Linked DNA regions of Homo sapiens. The protein of the gene in region 2 purifies or fractionates together with the protein of the main gene of each other region. This does not show direct contact. Each region holds a gene or a part of one and is shown on either strand. Other genes may lie near its edges. The genes, in order: PCOLCE2 and SLC25A51.

Region 1 (3,824 bases), on a different chromosome or scaffold from region 2:
GGCAATCAATCATTCCCCATACAAGCAAATGTTTAAAAGAACATTTCCAACATGTGAATCAAAGGAAACCTCACTGGATTTATTATTACCTATGACAGCTGGTACCCAATCTTGCCGAGCAGCAAGTGGGCAAGAACCCTCCTTGCTACTTCAGGGAAGATAAAGGACATTAATTCCTATTAGCTAGAGAAGACTCAAACACAGTAATCCAGGTGAAGATGATAATAGCAACAGCATCACAGATGGACACAAAGGTAATTTTGGCTTTGACCATAATTTCCACACATCTTTGGACTGAACTACCTTTTAAAAAGTCAGTGCCAGTGATAGGTGAATAATGCTTATTCATACTTAAGATGGCTTTAAATTGTATTAAAATATTTCCTCTTTGGGTCCAGTGACTTCTTACCACTTACTAATAAAATGCTTTCCAGGTTATTAAAAAAATTGGCGAACTTTTTCTACTTAGAAATTAGTCACAAAGGCTGGGCGTGGTGGCTCACGCCTGTAATCCCAGCACTTTGGGAGGCCGAGGCAGGCAGATCATGAGGTCAGGAGATCGAGACCATTCTGGCCAACACGGTGAAACCCCATCTCCACTAAAAATACAAAAAATTAGCCAGGCATGGTGGCGGGTTCCTGTAGTCCCAACTACTCAGGAGGCTGAGGCAGGAGAATGGACCGAACCCGGGAGGTGGAAGTTGCAGTGAGCCGAAATCGCACCACTGCACTCCAGCCTAGGTGACAGAGCAAGACTCCGTCTCAAAAAAAAAAAAAAAAGAAATTAGTCACAAAAACTTTTGCAGAGAAGATTAAAAAAAGTAAAGAAGAAGATAAAGGAAAAGAACTGTGGTAACAAATGATGGTAAGGTAATTCTTTAATAGAAGAAAATTCCAATGAAATTCCTTCAATACAATAATTCCCTTGCATAGAAACTATTTAGGACTTAATTTTCCCATTATATTTTTCTCCTTTGAGAAACTGCCAGTGATTTCAAACACAGTGATTAAGAACTCAATTGACAGAAGCCAAAAATCACATTAAAATCAAATAAAAATCAAACTTAACATTTAAATGATCAAAGGGAAGAACAATGGAAAAGAGATGCTTAACTGTAATCTGCAAGTATAATTAAGTTGGAATTATTTGGTCAAATATATTTACAAATGTCACAGAGAAAATGATCAATATAATTTCAAGAATTACATAATGGTTTAAATGTTTCAGAAACACAATTTTTAAAATTACTTTATAAAACATTCAACAGACTTATAAAATCTTCCATTATTAAATAAATGGCCATATATTTCTTCTTAAAAATAAAACCAAGTTTTGGAATTATGATCACTGTTTATGTCTGTATATATGTGTATATGTTCAAATCACTAACTTGCATGGTATATTAGCTTAAATAATTTTCTATAAAAAAAGAAATACATGACAAATGGTATCTGTTCAAGCTATATGAAAGGTTAATTTAGAAAAGTTTTTTTAAAAACAGTATCATAATGTTTACCTCATAGTGTTTGGGTTAAAGTCTATAGTGTTTCTAATAGTAATAATTTTTATAAAGTTATCTTTAAAGGTCCACAAAGTAGATTTCATGTGTTTCTATGCTAAGTTCTTTCCTGCAATTAATATGTGAAACTGGTTCCCAGAAAGGGTAAAAAGTTGTATATGTAACCACAAATTAATAAATACTGGAAAAGTCGACCTTCTCTGTTGATTATTTCAGAACAATGAATGAAGCTTTTTGTGGGGAACCTGCACATATTTTATTTTAAATGACAACCAAAAACACCCTAAAGCAGACCAGCTTGTTCTTTGAAGAGATAATGTGGCTTGCTTTTGTTGGCTTTGTTGAGGCAAAGCATCCACACTTTTTTATTTAGTCACTAGAATAACTATTATCAGGACATGATGGGTTTGTGATGGGAGCAAATGGTAACCTGAAATGTCCATGGACCTGGGGATTTTTATCCTCCCACAGTTAGTCGCTGCTGCTTATAACATCCACTGCAGGGTTAAACAATCCTATGTGAGATCTGCTTACCATTTGTATTTTTAAAACTGTTTTGAAAATTGTCATTATATAGCAGGAAATTAAATCCATGAATTTGCAACTCAAAAAAATGCAAAGGCTAGGCCGGGCACGGTGGCTCACATCTGTAATCCCAGCATTTTGGGAGGCTAAGGCAGACGGATCTCCTGAGGCCGGGAGTTTGAGACCAGCCTGACCAACATGGAGAAACTCTGTCTCTACTAAAAAAATACAAAATTAGCCGGGCGTGGTGGCGCGTGCCTGTAATCTCAGCTACTCGTGAGGCTGAGGCAGGAGAATCGCTTGAACCCAGGAGGTGGAGGTTGCGGTGAGCTGAGATCGCACCATTGCACTCCAGACAGGGCGACAAGAGCGAAACTCTGTCTCAAAAAAAAAAAAAAATATCTGGGGTCTTCGCATGAAGAAATACCTGTGTCCAGGAACCTTCCTCTTCTTGTATCCCTTAGCTCTCGAATAGCCCCCACAACAGGAGGCTCTTGAGAGTTGGTGGGCCCCCCACACTGGGCAATTCACACATGCATGCTTTCTTCACACTTCCAGGGAATCTCACCTGATTCTTTGGGGCTACAATGTGCCACACACAAGTGACTCCTGCAGGGTAATCCCGGTCTGGCCAGTTGGGGGTTTTAAAAGAGCCGGAAGGTCTGTCAAGGAGTCCTCCACAATACTGATCCCCTTCAAGTATTAAACAAGGAAAAAAGCCCACAAGTTTATGTAGGTTACAGCAATACAACCATGTGGAGATTAGGAATGTGGGATCTTTGGTGAGAGTACAGTAAATAAAGGCAACAGCAGAAGCGCTTACATTTTCTCTTAAACATATGGTTACATACATAACCCCCCAACACACACAATGAATGATCTTTGTTACCTGACATAGCATAGCAACACGAGAGAGGGGAGAAGTGGACTCAGGGCCTCTTTTCTTTTTTTTTCCTTAGACAAGGAAGACAAAACATTTGAATATGCACTCACTCAGAAAGCTTGCAGGCTCAAAAAATCATAGAGATGTTAAGGCTCCTCAAGGCATTGGTATTTAGTAAACACCCAGGGACAAAATTTGAATTAGTTGATATAGACAGCTCTCATTACTAGAAAACTTCCCATGATATATATATAATATGTATATAATATATATATGTTTTAAGAATAAATTTTGTTTGTAAAAATAATATTTACAAATTTTCAGCAATACAGAAAGGCACAAGGAAGGAAGCAAAAATATACCCCCAAATCCCCAGTTTTAGCCACCAAAAACTCATCAAAATTAATAGGTGACAAATATCATTTCAGGCATCTGTACTCATAAGTTGCATATGTACCTGTAGGTTGGCAGAAATAATGTAAGAATTATTTTAATACGAAGTTCTAAATTTAATTTTACTTGAATGTAAATAACAAATAAAAACTGAACTGAAACTAAAATAATTATACTTCAATGGAATATTTCTTTGACACAGAATATATCCAACCATTCTTAAATCAAACTTCTAAATTTAAGATAATGTATTATAAAAATGGAGGTTGGAATAATTTCTAAATCTCCATTTAATGAAAAATTTCAAGTATATACAAAGTAAGTAGAATAATATAATGACCTCCTACATATCCATTACCCAGTTACAATAATAGTCATCATTCTATTATTCTATCTATATTGCCACCCAATCCCCACGACCTGCTTCATTGTTTTTATTATTATTATTTTACAGGTTTTGGGGAGAGAAATTCACATACTCTGAAATGCACAAATCTTAGCTG
Region 2 (3,824 bases):
AAATTTGTGCCCAGCCTGGGCAACATAGTGAGACTCTGCCTCTACAAAAATCAAAATAAATTTTTGGGGCATGATGGCGTACACCAGCTACTGGGAAGGTGGAGGGAGAAGGACCTCTTGAGCCCAGGAAGTTCAGGCTGCAGTGAGCTGTGTTCATGTCACTGCGTTCCAGCCTGGGTGACAGAGTAATACCCTGCTTTAAAAAAAAAAAAGAACATACGATCCAACAATCCTACTTCTGGGGATATAACCAAAACAATTGAAAGCGCAGTCTCAAAGACCTTGTACACCCACGTTCACAGAAGTACTATTCACAACAGCCAAGAGGTGGAAACAATCCAAACCATATTTAAGAGTTTCAATGGGAAATAATAAAAACAACAAAAAACCGTCTAGGTCTTTCACTTGGAACAAAAAATTGCCAAGTTCCTTAAGTTTTTTTTCCCTCCTCATACTACACACATGCTGTGGTGAACTGCTCAACACTCAGGACAAAAGATGTTAAAGAGAACCATGATCACTCTCAAAGTAGAAAGCGTAGAGCTGAGGCACAGAAAGAATCAGATAGCATTAGTTCCTAAGGGGCGTATATCTGCCAGAGCCACCAATGTGTAATGAATATGGAACACACACACAACCATAATTTTCCTTCTAAGACTACAGATTAAGAAAATAATTCACACAACATGTACACAAAGATTCAGCCATCGCCCGGCCAGCCGCCCCGTCCAGGAGGGAGGTGGGGGGCAGCCCCCACCCGGCCAGCCGCCCCGTCCGGGAGGTGGGAGGCGCCTCTGCCCGGCAGCCCCTTCTGGGAAGTGAGGAGCCCCTCTGCCCGGCCGCCACCCTGTCTGGGAGGTGTACCCAACAGCTCATTGAGAACGGGCCATGATGACGATGGCGGTTTTGTCGAATAGAAAAGGGGGAAATGTGGGGAAAAGACAGAGAAATCAGATTGTTGCTGTGTCTGTGTAGAAAGAAGTAGACATAGGAGACTCCATTTTGTTCTGTACTAAGAAAAATTCTTCTGCCTTGGGATGCTGTTGATCTATGACCTTACCCCCAACCCTGTGCTCTCTGAAACATGTGCTGTGTCCACTCAGGGTTAAATGGATTAAGGGCGGTGCAAGATGTGCTTTGTTAAACAGATGCTTGAAGGCAGCATGCTCGTTAAGAGTCATCACCACTCCCTAATCGCAAGTTCCCAGCGACACAAACACTGCGGAAGGCCGCAGGGTCCTCTGCCTAGGAAAACCAGAGACCTTTGTTCACTTGTTTGTCTGCTGACCTTCCCTCCACTATTGTCCTATGACCCTGCCAAATCCCCCTCTGCGAGAAACACCCAAGAATGATAAAAAAAAAAAAAAAAATTTTATATATATATATATACACACAACTACTTTAAAAAAAAAAAAAAAAAGATTCAGCCATAAGATAGTCACAGCCAGGCTTTTAACAGCAAATAATGAATACAAATGCTCAATAGTAAAAGACACAATGTGTAAGTGAAGATGTATCCACAGGATGAGACATAAAGTTATTAAAAATAAAGAAGTGTTTAAGGTTCAGTGTAGGATTAATTTTGAATTTTTAATGGTATTTAGACGCAAAGTAAAAATTAAATAGCATACGTATGTCAGGTACCTATGTCAGGGGAGATAAGACAGGCAAATAATTAGACAACAGGGAGATAAATGAAATCATGGAAGGTATCAAGGCCCCATACAGCAGGAGGTCATTAATCAGCTGTCTGGAGAGAATGACAGGCAGGACATGACCCGTGGGCTCGGCTCTGAAAGCTGAATAACTGTCACTATGCACATAAGGGTGAAGCACATTTTAGCCAATGGAGCAGCAGAGGCTAAGGCACAGGTGTTGGGCTAAAGGAGCAGCGGCATCGCGTTCTTGGAGGTTACTTGTGTATGCCCTGCAGGGGCACAACGTAGGTAGAGAAGGATGGGTAGCTGATGAGGACAGAGAAGCCGGTTAGGACCCTCAGGAAAATCCCAAGACCCTCTGAACAATACTACATTATATATATACAATATATACAATACTACATTATATATATATATTTTTTTCTTTTTCTTTTTTTTTGAGACAGTGTCTCACTGTTGCCCAGGCTGGAATGCAGTAGTGCAATCTTGGCTCACCTGCAGCCTCAACCTCCTGGGGTCAAGCAATTCTCCCACCTCAGCCCTCTGAGTACCTGGGACTACAGGCACATGCCACCACACCTGGTTAATTTTTTTTTTTTTCTTTTAGATGGAGTCTCACTCTGTTGCCCAGGCTGCAGTGTAGTAGCACGATCTCAGCTCACTGCAACCTCTGCCTCCTGGGTTCAAGCGATTTTACTGCCTCAGCCTCCCAAGTAGCTGGGATTACAAGTGCGCACCACCATGCCCAGCTAGTTTTTGTATTTTTAGTAAAGACAGATTTTTGCTGTGTTGGTCAGGCTGGTCTTGAACTCCTGACCTCAGGTGATCCGCCCGCCTTGGCCTCCCAAAGTGCTAGGATTACAGGTGTGGGCCACAGCGCCTGGCCCAATTTTTGTATTTTTTTTGTAGAGATGAGGTTTCACCATGTTGCCCAGGCTGGTCTTGAGCTTCTGGGCTGAAGTGATCCAACTGCCTCAGCCTCTCAAGGTGCTGGGATTACAGGTGTAAGCCACTGTGCCCAGCCAAATTTTTTTGCTTTCTCTTGTGAAGCAAATGAAAGAAACTATTTTACTTAAGTATGTTACACTAAGATCTGTATATCCTTTTCTAAGAATATAGACTATGATTAAGAAAATGTAGACATCTGTACAATCTATGGCCTAACGCCTCTTTGGAGTTTGAGCTGCTTTGCTGTCATGTTCCTATTAGAAAAGATGAACTCTTTTTACCTAAGAGCAAGTTAGGACTAATGTCACTGCAGGCCCAAAGTCTACCCTAAGGAAGGTAATACAAGGAGTCAGGAAACTTCTCCCCACTCAAAGAAAGTCACTTGGTTGTATCCAGAGAGCTGGGCAGTGTCAGAGCTCAAACCTTTCACTGTCCCTCCCTGATCAGGAGAGCCATACCACCTCTAAGGTCCAAAATATTTTGTTCAGTTGAAGAAACCTGCTCTGAAAATTTGTTTCACTGCCTTTTAAACAGAGAGAAATTACTTCCGATTTTGGCAGTTACTAATGCGGTTAGATTATGAAGTCACCTGTATGCTCCACTGAGAGATGCCAGATTCCTTGGAGTTGGGCTGTTTGTAGATCCAGTAACAACAAAAAATCATTTAAATAAAAATTCACAGAAGAAACGTGTATAACCTACATGAATAGAGAAAAAAAGCTGGAAACCAATTAAACACACAGAGAGCCTCTCCTCCAGGCTCACTGGCCTACTCGGGTCTCTTCTCACCTGAACTAATGCAAGGGACCCTGCAGCAATCAGCCTGACTCTGTTCACGCTCACCCACCCCTATTCCCTGCCCTCTTCAACCTACTCGTCATTTTAAAAAGAAACACACACACACACTACTAAGTTTAAAAAGTGAGGTATGTAACAATGCATTTTGGAATCTAATATTAGCACAGAGATACCTGAGCGTTTAGAATGGTTGCACAGTACTCTATGAAATGACTGCACTGTATACAATTTATTCTACCTCCTATTTATGGTTGCTGTTTTTTTTTATGGTTTTGTATTATTAAGGTTTGGAAAACTCTGTGGACAATTCAGCTTGCCAAGTGTGTGAGTGGGTATACAAAAGATATACATTTTTAATTCCAAGACCTTCCAGAGAGTGTCTAGAGGAAAGGTCTAATTAAACCTGCCCCCACTCACCTT

Evidence for each region.
Region 1: the proteins of SLC25A51 (region 2) and PCOLCE2 purify together in Homo sapiens (affinity purification with mass spectrometry; one large-scale study listed by BioGRID and IntAct). This does not show direct contact.

The regions. Positions count from the first base shown.
Region 1 is NC_000003.12:142,840,311-142,844,134, forward strand, and holds part of PCOLCE2 (procollagen C-endopeptidase enhancer 2 precursor), read right to left. Parts: intron 2,739-3,824; coding exon 2,614-2,738; intron 1-2,613. UniProt on the Homo sapiens protein: Binds to the C-terminal propeptide of types I and II procollagens and may enhance the cleavage of that propeptide by BMP1.
Region 2 is NC_000009.12:37,890,496-37,894,319, forward strand, and holds part of SLC25A51 (mitochondrial nicotinamide adenine dinucleotide transporter SLC25A51), read right to left. Parts: intron 1-3,824. UniProt on the Homo sapiens protein: Mitochondrial membrane carrier protein that mediates the import of NAD(+) into mitochondria. Mitochondrial NAD(+) is required for glycolysis and mitochondrial respiration.